Homo sapiens: one gene and its partners. The protein of the gene in region 3 interacts with the protein of the main gene of each other region in a biochemical or structural test. Each region holds a gene or a part of one and is shown on either strand. Other genes may lie near its edges.

Region 1 (3,749 bases), on a different chromosome or scaffold from region 3:
TAAACAAGAACAATTAAGTGTAATTAAATCAGGTGGGAGGCACACTTACAAAAATGAAACAATTTTTGGTTCACATTTTACACCACACAGGTATTCTGTATCTTTAGAACATGAGAAAATACATATTCTCAGTCTGATAGGTCTCTGACTTGGGGGTTTCTTTTACTGTACTTTTTTTCTCTCTAGTAGCTGAACATTTTAAAGCAATCAGCAGAAAAAATATAAAACTTCAGAACCAATTAGACTTTTAAAAGCAACGTTCTTGCCCTTTCCAGAGATACATTCCTTAATCCTCCTACAAATCATGACCTCACACGATAACTTTAAGGGTGAACATCAACTTATCTACATTTTGGTGCTTTCTTTCCCTTAAGTGGCAGATGGTTTCTATTAACCTAAAATTGAAGTCATTGTTGGGGGACCCCTAATTCCATGTCTAGTCCTAGTGCCCAGAGGCTACCAAAGACGATACGAATAGCTTCTCAGGCACTCTACCCACCGTTTACCTTGTTAATACAAATCTTTCCCAGACCTGGGTCCCGAAATTATTTTACCCTGCAGAGCAGAAATGTTACGGTGTTCATTCAGTGAACTCTTCCCTAGTTTTTAATCTTTGTATTTTCTGCGTATACTTCAAGCCACCAGTAACTTTCCCAGTTACCAAGAAACAGTGTAACACAGGTCGCTATTTGTTTTGTTCGGAATTTACGAGCAATTTAACCACACGTGATTAGCAACATTAAGGGGGCTCCTCCAGGCAAAGAATCCACAGAATGAGAGGCCCTTGGTACCCAAATGAAGCAACAATGAAAGATCGGCGAAGCTCAGCAAGGTTCCTGAGCGCCACGGACGCCTGCTCTGATTTCAGGTTGCCGGCGCGCGCCCGCGGGTCTGCCTTTATGGACGAGGCGCAAGAGGGATCCAGGAAAGACGGTGCCCTTAGAGACTCGGAGATTAGCGTGGGCAACCCTGCCACCAGCTGCCCCTGCCACCAGCCGCCCCCACAACAAAAAGGAGGAAACGCTCCGCATCCCGTCACCAGGACAACTCTGTAACCCGACACCGAGGCTCAAGATTCCGCATCCCGGGCAGCGAACACAGGAGAAAAGCACATCGCGGCCCGGCCGCGGGGCTCCAAGGCGTCCGTGCCGCCGCTGTTCCTGGGGTGCCGAGAGCGACGCGGGGTCCACCCTCTCCGCCGGCCCGAGGTCCGAAGCTCGGCCCGCCACCGCTCCCGGCCGGCGCCTCCCGCACGTGGCGGCCGTGATTGTCCCGGGGCGGTATCCCTCCGCGCCCCCGCCTCAGTCTCCCCCCGCCCTTCCCGGGACCCTCCGTGCCCGGGCGCCGCGGAAGGATCGCACGCACGCGCGCGCGCACGCCCAGCCGTGTCCGCGGAAAACGGAGGGCGCTGCGGTAAGGAGCAGCCGCCACAGGCACAGCCGCTTCGCAGCCTCCCGCCGCTGGTTTGTCAGCCCCGCGGCTGCGGGCGGCCGGGCGGCCGAGCGCGCTCTGAGGTTCGTCCCTCATCGCTGAACCCGCGTCCTCCCGCCGCAGCTCCTCGGGGAGGGGGGCGGTCGGTGCCTGCGCAGAGCCGCCTCCTCCCCGCCCCCGCCCCGCCTCCCCCCGCGCCGCCGCCGCCCGCTACCGCCGCCGCCGCCGCTGCGCCTGCTGCTCCTCGCCGTCCGCGCTGCAGTGCGAAGGGCTCGAAGATGGCCGGTTGGCAGAGCTACGTGGATAACCTGATGTGCGATGGCTGCTGCCAGGAGGCCGCCATTGTCGGCTACTGCGACGCCAAATACGTCTGGGCAGCCACGGCCGGGGGCGTCTTTCAGAGCATTACGGTGAGGACCAGTGGCGGCCGGTACCCTGGTCCCTGCACCGGAGCGGGGTGGCCGGCCGCGGGGGCACCGCAGCGCGGGGCTGGAACACTGAGGGCCGAGCCCGCAGGTGTGCTAGGCAGCGGGCGCCGAGGATGCGGCTGCCGGGCGGGCGGGGAGGCCGAGGCCCGGGGACGCCCCCTCACCCGGGGCTGCGCTGACAGGCTGGGGGCGGCGGCCGGACTCCTTGCTGGCCCTGGCCGGGCGCCCCCGGCGTTCCCAGCGTCGGTCCAGGTGCCCGGGTTGGGGGAGGGGGCACGCACCGGCCAGGGCAAGGGGAGGGGTTCCTTTTTTCCTCCTAGTGCGGTTCCCCTAGGTTCTCTTGAAGCCCTGAGGTTTGCTATGCACGTTCTGGGGTGGAAGCGGGGGTCGGGGATCCGGGCTGGGGCGCGCGGGCCCCGGGTGGAGGTCCCTAGGCTCTCTGGCCGGCTCTTGCTCCGCGGACAGCGCGCCTCCCGCGCCTCCGGCTGTGGGAGGCGGCGGCCCCGGCCCGGCCCCCGGGATTCTCGAAGCGACTTTGCGTAGGTTTACCGATGTCCAGGCCTCTGGGGCTTGCGAGAGATGTACGCCGACCGCGTAGGTGGATTCGTGAATCTCGACTTCAGCTCTAGCTCTATAGGTTGTTTTTTTTTTTTTTTTAAATTCTCCAAGATGGCGAACTGCCATTGATTTCTCTTCTCATATGGAGATTCATCGATATACGGTTATCCCCAGTTATGCAACATAGCTCAAAAAAGGGGTGCTTTTCGGGGGCTTTCAATTATCTGCGAAGACCAGGAGCACACTTCACTTCTCTAAGTCCCTCCCTCTTTAGTGGTGGCAGTAAAGGAACTAATGCAGTTTTATGCTTCACATTGCCTGATTTTCTTGAGACTTGATGGTTTTGAGTTGGTTGCAATATGTTTGGAGAATATTTGCCACAAAACCTCCAGCTTATTGTTTTGCCTGTTTCTGCCCAAGGCTGTTTCTAAAATTATGATAATTGTACTAAATACGAGACCATTCTCTTTATTTCTTAGCACCACGCTCCCTTTCCATTAAGCACCAAAATTCAGGTCCCCTATTAAGGGTGCTAATTATTCTTTTACCACTTAACATGGTTTAAAGTCTAACTTTAGAACTCAGTCCTTGATAGTAGTACTTTAAGGTCTCGTATACCCGCAGTGGACTACAATTCTTGTAGGGAATTGGCATCTGGTCATCAACTTTTTTCCTGCAGTCCTCTTGTCTTTGTGTGTGAGTTCCCGCTGTCTGACTAGGAAGATTGCGGGAGTGTGCTTGGAAATGGCTGGGGCCTGCTATGACTCTGCAGTTCTGATGGGGGCGACGCCTTCCTTCTTATTCATGGAATGTTAGAATGCACGTTTTCTCCTTTCCGGTTCTGGTGGCTACCTCAGTTTCTTTCCCAATCTCCCTCCATTTTTTCTGTTTTACTATTGCCTACCGCAGTGCTGTAGACAGAATCCACTTTGCGTTTGCCCAGAAAGAAAACTGATTACTGAGATGGGAGGGGAAGGGAAGTTGGAAAGAAACGGGAGTCGTGGCTAGAAAAATAGGAGGGAAATATGAATTTGGAAAAGCACTGATGTCCAGGGGTTGAAGTCCATCTCATCACGTATATTTCTAGTTACTCTAAGCAGAGAAGTGAACACATCAAAGAACAGGCTTTATTTTGGGAGACTTTGAAGCAACTTTAAATTTGATGAAACATGATTTACTGTAATGGGACTGAATATGATAGACCAGCTTTGTTCAGAGTTGATAGCTGAATTTTTACCATTACGTGAACACTTTCAGGCACCAGCTGACTTAATACAGTTTATAAATAACTCTTTAAGTTTGCACTTTGTCTAGTGTCAACTGTCAACTCTT
Region 2 (3,749 bases), on a different chromosome or scaffold from region 3:
AACCCAGGCCAGTGACATGTGAATGTCCCAAAGACCCCTCAAAGTCCCTGGGTTCAGTGGTGAATCCATCATCTCCACCCTCACCTGAATAGCCTCTCCTCCAGGGCTCCTTAACACCTTGAATAGCACCACTGTCCACCCAGTGCCCCCAGCTAGAAACAGCATCACCCAGTTTCCATATGGAAAGAGTGTGAGTGAGGGGACAGCAGTGCCTTTCAGCCTGGAACTGGGGCTAGAAGAAGAGAATCTTCTAATTGCAGTTGCTTTCTATGGGCCAATTTGTGGGAGAAGCAGGATGAGACCTCACCACAAATGTGGACGTTGAATGAAATCTGTCTACCCTGGCTCTAGCAAAATGGGGGCTGGGGTTGCGGGGAGAGGTGGTGAGAAGCAACAGACCCAGCGGTGCTGGTGGGGAACAGGTTTTACAACGTGAGCTCTGCCATAGCTGGAAGAGCCTGCAATGTTGATGTTGAAAAACAAATTTGCTTGTCATCAACACACACACACACACACACACACACACACACACACACATCAATTTCATGTCTCCCCTCCTGTTTTCCTGTTTCCTCTGCTCAGAACGGCTTTCCTCCTATCATCCCACACCCTCAGCCATAATTCTTCCTCATACTTAATTCTCAAATGACATGTCTCCTCCTCCGGGAAGCTCTCCCTGACGCCCCCACTGTGTTATTTGTCATCCTCTGTGCGTGGAGGTGTGTCTAGCACTGTTTGTTTACGTGTCTGTCTCCGTGTCTCCCCTGCAGGCTGTCAGCTCTGTAAGAGCAGAAGCGTGATGCCCAGCCCCGGGCCGACACCGGGAAGACGGTGGGGAGGGGAAGGACCGCGGTAGAGAGCCCCAGCCGGGGAGCCGGGCACAGTCCAGACGGGGCCATTTCGATGCGCGCGCGGGGAGCTCAGCGGGACACAGCCAAGCGCCAAATACACAGCATCTCTGGAGGCGCCGGTGGCCGGTGGAGGATGGGCCCCCCACGAGGCTCTCCCAACCAAACGGCTGGAGACTCGGGGGAGGCCCTGCCGGCATCGTACTCCCTGTGGTCGTCCTCCCCTCGCGCGGGTAGGGGCCCCCCCACGCCCACTCCGTCTCCGCCTCCCGAGTCCCCGCGGCCGCCACCTCTGCCCTCCGCTCCGCAGAATCTCTCCGATTTACAACGGCCCAGGGCAGAGCCGGGGGCCAGGGAATGGGAAGGAGAAGGCGCCAAGACGCCGAGGAGAGAGCAGGCGGCCCCTCACCCCACCCTCGCGCCCTCCTAGGCGGGAAGAAATTGAGCCCCGAGAGAGGCCCTTCAGGGAACAGGAGTCCCAAAGGCCCGGGAGCCTCGGGGGGCCGCAGCCTCCGCGTCCCCCTCCCTCCTTCCCTCCTCTGCGCCTCCCTACCTGGCTGGCTTTGTGGAACTGCTTCTTCAGCCCGGCCACCGACATCGCGACTGCGACCGGCAGGGGCGGGGTGGTCTCAAGGCTCGGCTGGGCCACGCGGCCGCGACGCGCTCGGGGAGCGGGAGCCCGGGCCGGTCCCCCCGCGGCTGGGCTCCGCCGGGCCCGCCTCCCACGGCCACGGCCACAGCCACAGCCGCTGTCACACTCGCACACACGCGCGCACGCCGATGGCAACACTGCGTTCCAAAGCCCCTGCGCAGCCCATTGGCCAAGCCGCGGCGATATGCAAATGAAGCTGCTGGGGCCGCCCACGCTTCATTGTTGCGTGGAGACCTGGGCTACTTGAGCCGCGCAGAAGACCGGCCTGGGAAGCTGGGCGTGGGGATGTCCTGGGGGTCGGGGGAGTACAGTCACACAGTGCTTCTTGCTGGGCGCGGGACGATATAGATCTAGCTCTGAGATTGTCATGGGTACCGGGAGAGAGATCAGTTCTCTCTGCTTCTGTCTTGGTGCCGAACCGGCTTTGGCTCACAGGCAACATCGCCTCCCTCCGGCGCATTTTCGCTCGGTGTATGTTTAAGAAAGGAAGGCTCAGAAATGCGCCTAGGGAGGGACAACAAATGCAACTCGATGGGGGACCTGTGGTAGGAGGAAGCGGTCTGTGGGTGGCGGGCTTTCTTCTCTCTCCACGCGGTGCTCTGGGTGCAATCTGCTCAAATGATTTTGGTCTTCTGGGAGCCCTAGAGTTATGGAGTAATTTACTAATAAATACGGTGCTAGCTCACTTGGTGCTCTGAGCCCGCTGTCAACGGCACTAAAAGCAACCATCTCCAAGGTGCCATAAAGAGCTCGTTGCATATCCGGCGGAGTCCACCAGACCAGGAACCCAGCTCTCTCGGTAACCCCTACCAGCTGTGTCAGTTACAGAGTGTCCATTTGCACAGAGTCCAGAGGTCGACGCACTCACAGCTAAGCCCAGCCAGGGACATGGAGCATTGCGTTAACCTCGTGTTAGAGCTATCCCCAAAAGGTACAGCATCTTCGCTGAATCTGGCTTCCAAAGGTCCCGAGGATTCCCAAACCTAGAATATATGTTTGGCAACGCTTCACACTGAAAAACAAAAACATTTCCCACCTTCAGTCTCTTTTTGGGCCCTTAGCAGGTCCCATCTGGGGTGACGAGCAGTCCCTGTCTGCCCTGGACACTTCGGGTATATGCCTGTGCCCTGGTGTCCACCTGCCATAACATTTCTCCAGGACAAAAGTCATGCAGTTCCTCCCCTAGCTGTTAGCTCCCAGCGCCCAGTCGGGGCTAGTCCTAACCCTGACTTCATCCTAGTGAGGACTGGGCAAGTAAGTACACACCTCTCTGGGCCTTGGTTTCCTCACTTCTACTTGAAGCATGTAGACTGGAATAAACAGTGTTCCTCCTCTGATACTGGGGAAAAAATGCTTGAACTTAGTGGAGATCGTGGGATAAGGGCAGCCAGTCAGAGGGTTAATGAGCATGACTTGGGTGAGTGTTGTGGGCTTACCTGCCTGACACCAGCCACTGATAGATAACTAAAAAGTGTGAGGGTGGTGACAGCTGGGTCAGAATGGCGTAGCAAGATGACCTGTCCATACAACAGTTCAAATGCCTCTCAACAGTGGGCTTCACCGCAGGCCAACCACTACATAAGGCAGAGAGCCAGCTGCAGCTGGAGTCCAGGATTGGCAGGTCTCTCTTGTCCTAGGCTATTCAGGGCTGCTCAGCTTCCTCTTTCTCCATGCTCCAGAGAGGTTTAAATAGCACCGGTTCTATGGTACCTCCCCCTAGACCAATCCGGCTCTGTGCCCTTTGGGAGGAGGGGGGTGCTTTTTTTTCAAACAGTTTATTGGCATTTCCTCCACAGTCGTTAGTACATTCAAGTTTCTCACTTCAGTTGATTTTGGTAATTTATCTCCTTCATTAATCAAGTATAGAGTTGAAGATCATACTTTTTAAACTTCAGAATCTTTCATATACATTTTCTCCTTTGTAAAAGTTTTTGTGATTTGTCTTAATTTTTTCAGTGAATAGATTTATTGGAGGTTTGCTGATTTTATTGGTCTTTCAAAATATTTTTGAAGGTACTCATCATTGCTACAGATTTTTCTCTCTCATTGATTTTTCTTTCATTATTCTTACACATTCCTTCCTTCACTTTTGTTCAGAAGACTAGTGAGAGTTTGAGGGTTTTAACAATAGAAACTGACTCTAGCTAACATAAGCTGGAAAATATGTATTGGAGAAGGATGTCAGGCAGCCTGGAGATTCACAGGAGGGGTGTAGGGAACAAGGTGGAGGGGATGAGCAGGAATTAGGA
Region 3 (3,749 bases):
CAAAATAAAAATAGATTTTTTTTTGATTACACAAATTAAACAACAATAAAACATCACAGCAATCCGGATACTATAAAGCTCACATGCTTACCGACCCAACTGCCCCAGGAGTGACCACTGCCAACAGCTTCATGTCGACCTTTTTGCCATAATTTTTATATAGCCTTTTTTGTTTTTAAATGGTAATTTAGAAAGTCAACTAGGAAAATGTGTTACAGGTTTATCTTCCAGGAGAATAGGACTGGAGTCGAGATCTTGAATGTGGCTTGGAAGAAGGCAAGCCCACCCCAGAGAGATGAGTTGACAGTTGTTTCTGACCACTGCTTGCTTAGAGGGCCTGCGTGTCTGTGACCGCCTAGCTTTGCGCCCCTGACTAGGCTGCCCCTTAATTACAAATGTCTTTATATATTGCTCCAGCTAAGGCTTGGAGTAGTCGGTTAAGAACTTGAACTTCGGTTTTTGCAGTGAAACAGCATTTGAGAATATCACCTTCTGATAAGCCTTATTTTATAAGGTGGGTACTGTAGTGGGAGGCAGTGTGAGAGATGCTTGAAGGATGCACTGCTGTCCTGCATTTCAGCATCTTCAGGATGCTGTGCAGCTGAAACATTTGATAACGGTGGAACTGTTCGTTATTTTGCAAGCCTGTGATTCCCTATTGAATGTTTTCTCTCGCCATTTGACAAATGAGTGTTTCTCTGTCTTCAGCCTCAGTGAAGGATGAGATCAGTGGAGAGCTGGCTGCTTCTTCAGGGGTTTCCACTCCAGGGTCAGCAGGTCATGACATCATCACAGAACAGCCACGGTCACAGCACACACTGCAGGCGGACTCAGTGGATCTGGCCAGCTGTGACTTGACAAGCTCTGCCACTGATGGGGATGAGGAGGATATCTTGAGCCACAGCTCCAGCCAGGTCAGCGCCGTCCCATCTGACCCTGCCATGGACCTGAATGATGGGACCCAGGCCTCGTCGCCCATCAGCGACAGCTCCCAGACCACCACCGAAGGGCCTGATTCAGCTGTTACCCCTTCAGACAGTTCTGAAATTGTAAGTGGGCAGAGGGGCCTGACATCTTTTTTTTTATTTTTTATTTGAGACAGAGTCTCACTCCATAGTGCAGTGGAGGCCGGGCACAGGGGCTCATGCCTGTAATCCCAGCACTTTGGGAGACTGAGGCAGGCGGATCACTTGAGGTCAGGAGTTCGAGACCAGCCTGGCCAACATGGTGAAACCCTGTCTCTACTAAAAATACAAAAATTAGTTGGGCGTGGTGGCACATGTCTGTAGTCCCAGCTGTTAGGGAGGCTGAGGCAGGAGAATTGCTTGAGCCTGGGAGGCAGAGGTTGCAATGAGCCGAGATCGTGACACTGCACTCCAGCCCGGGCAACAGAGCAAGACTCCATTTCAAAAAAAATAAAAAAATAAAGTGCAGTGGCTCGTTCTCAGCCCACTGCAACTTCTGCCTCCCAGGCTCGAGCGATTCTCCCGCCTCAGCCTCCTGAGTAGGTGGGATTACAGGTGGGCACCACCACACTCAGCTAATGTTTGTATTTTCAGTAGAGACAGGGTTTCACCATGTTGGCCAGGCTGGTCTCAAACTCCTGACCTTAGATGATCCACCCACCTTGGCCTCCTAAAGTATTGGGATTATAGTTGTGAGCCACCATGCCCGGCCCTGCCACCTGCCATCTTTTGAGTTCTTCCCTGGAGACCTAGACCTGAACCCTCCTGCTTGTTCTCTTGTTATCTAATACCCCTATTGACAGCGCAGCTTAGATCATTAATGGAGAGCTTGACCTCATCTGATACCTTCACTGAAGGAAACAACTTAGTGTCTTTTGTGTTGAACACTGAGGTAAAAAATTGGAATAGTTGATTATATGAACTCTGCTAAAATTGAGTGCATTTTACATTTTTTAAGGCCTTGTTGGGCCCTGGTTAAATAATTATTTTTAAAAATCCTTAAGGAGCCTATTATAAACAGATCTGTGGTCTTAATGAAATGTGATTAATACTGTGCATTATTTTAAGAACTTTTGACTTTTCAAAAAACTTTTACAACATTTCCCATTTGATAGCGGCATAGGTTTAAGCACTTCTCATCTCTAAGTTAGTGGACAAAAAACCCTCATGGATAGTCTAATAATGTTTGCTACAAGTCCATGTTGAGTTTTATACTCCATTTTATTTTCAGTTTTAAAAACTGTGGTTAAATATGTGTAACATAAAATTTATGTTCTTAACCATTTTTTGCGTATACAGTTCGCTGGTATTAAATACATTTAAATAATGTCATGGAATCATTGCTACCACCCATCTCTGTAACCTTTTGATCATGTAACACTGAAGCTCTGTTCCCATTGAACTCTATTCCTCCTTTCCCGCCAAGTCCCTGGCAACCACGATTCTTCTTTCTGTCTTCTGAATTTGACTACTTTGGGTTCTCATATACTTTAGGAGTCACACAGTATTTGTTTTACTTAGCATAATGTCCCCAAAGCTCATGCATGTTGTAGCCTATGTTAGAACTTCCTAATGTTTCAGGCCAAATACTATTCCATTGTATGGATAGGCCACATTTTGCTTTTCCATTCCTCTGTCCATGGACACTTGTATTGCTTCATGTTTTAGCCATTGTGAATCATGCTGTTATGAACGTGGGTGTACAGATAGCTCCTGGAGACTCTGCTTTCCATTTTTTTGGCTAAATACCCAGAAATGGAGTTGCTTTTACATTCCAATTTTAATTTAAAACATTCATATCATTGAGTGTTTTACTTAATAGTATAGTAGTTAACAAACTTAATAAAATAGTATTTTGGTAATAATTTGCTGGTAGTCCATTGTTCAGTTTTTTTAGGTAAATTACACAGGACATTTCAAGTGGACATGAAACATCTTGTGATGTGGAATCATGCCCCAAGCTGATGGCTAAACATATGAAATACCATACCCTAAATTTAGTAGATTTAGTCTTTGCAATTTAGGAGATAACCTGTTATATTGTTAGGTTTTTGTCGAAAAGCTTTGTCCTCATATTTCCAACTTGCTGTAAAATTTGTTTGTGAAGACAAATATTTTTGTATGGGTTTTTTCTTTTTCATATTAAAAAGAAATGTCCACATTGGAATTTTTTTGGAGTTTTTAGAGCTAATAGAGCTTTTCATAATGTAGTGGGAATGAGTGATCAGTAAGCTCTTAGCAGTTTCCATGCGTGCATTTCTGTGCCTTGAAATAAATGACAGATGAGTACATTTGTGTTCTGTGTGTAAAATGTGCTCTTTCCTCATTGCACTTCCATGTTGGAGGGCTTGTCTCTTGGTGATCACACTTCAAAATTCTCACAGCCCCCCTTGAACCGTTTAGGTGTTAGACGGTACCGACAACCAGTATTTGGGCCTGCAGATTGGACAGCCCCAGGATGAAGATGAGGAAGCCACAGGTATTCTTCCTGATGAAGCCTCGGAGGCCTTCAGGAACTCTTCCATGGGTATGTGGACTACAGGTGATGCGCTACAAAGTGGTTTGTATTCAGACCTGGACATCTTAATTATATCTTTGCTTCCAAGAAGAAGTCCTTTGATACTGTTTTCTGAGTTCTGAATAGCTGATGAAAATGACCAATTGAGGAATAATCATACTTTTTCTTGATCTAAATCTTATACTTTTGAGTTATCTTAGCATAAATGTATAATTGTATTTTAAGTGGAAATTTGTCACTTAATCTTGATTTCTCTGTTTTTAAAG

Evidence for each region.
Region 1: the proteins of HTT (region 3) and PFN2 form a complex in vitro, tested with the Homo sapiens proteins (one study listed by BioGRID).
Region 2: the proteins of HTT (region 3) and SH3GL3 form a complex in vitro, tested with the Homo sapiens proteins (2 studies listed by BioGRID and IntAct, with this or other methods).

What each region holds. Positions count from the first base shown.
Region 1 is NC_000003.12:149,968,817-149,972,565, reverse strand, and holds the start of PFN2 (profilin-2), read left to right. Parts: upstream 1-1,670; 5' UTR 1,671-1,709; coding exon 1,710-1,841; intron 1,842-3,749. UniProt on the Homo sapiens protein: Binds to actin and affects the structure of the cytoskeleton. At high concentrations, profilin prevents the polymerization of actin, whereas it enhances it at low concentrations. By binding to PIP2, it inhibits the formation of IP3 and DG.
Region 2 is NC_000015.10:83,445,231-83,448,979, reverse strand, and holds the start of SH3GL3 (endophilin-A3), read right to left. Parts: upstream 1,640-3,749; 5' UTR 1,447-1,639; coding exon 1,402-1,446; intron 1-1,401. UniProt on the Homo sapiens protein: Implicated in endocytosis. May recruit other proteins to membranes with high curvature.
Region 3 is NC_000004.12:3,126,556-3,130,304, forward strand, and holds part of HTT (huntingtin), read left to right. Parts: intron 1-708; coding exon 709-1,049; intron 1,050-3,368; coding exon 3,369-3,492; intron 3,493-3,749.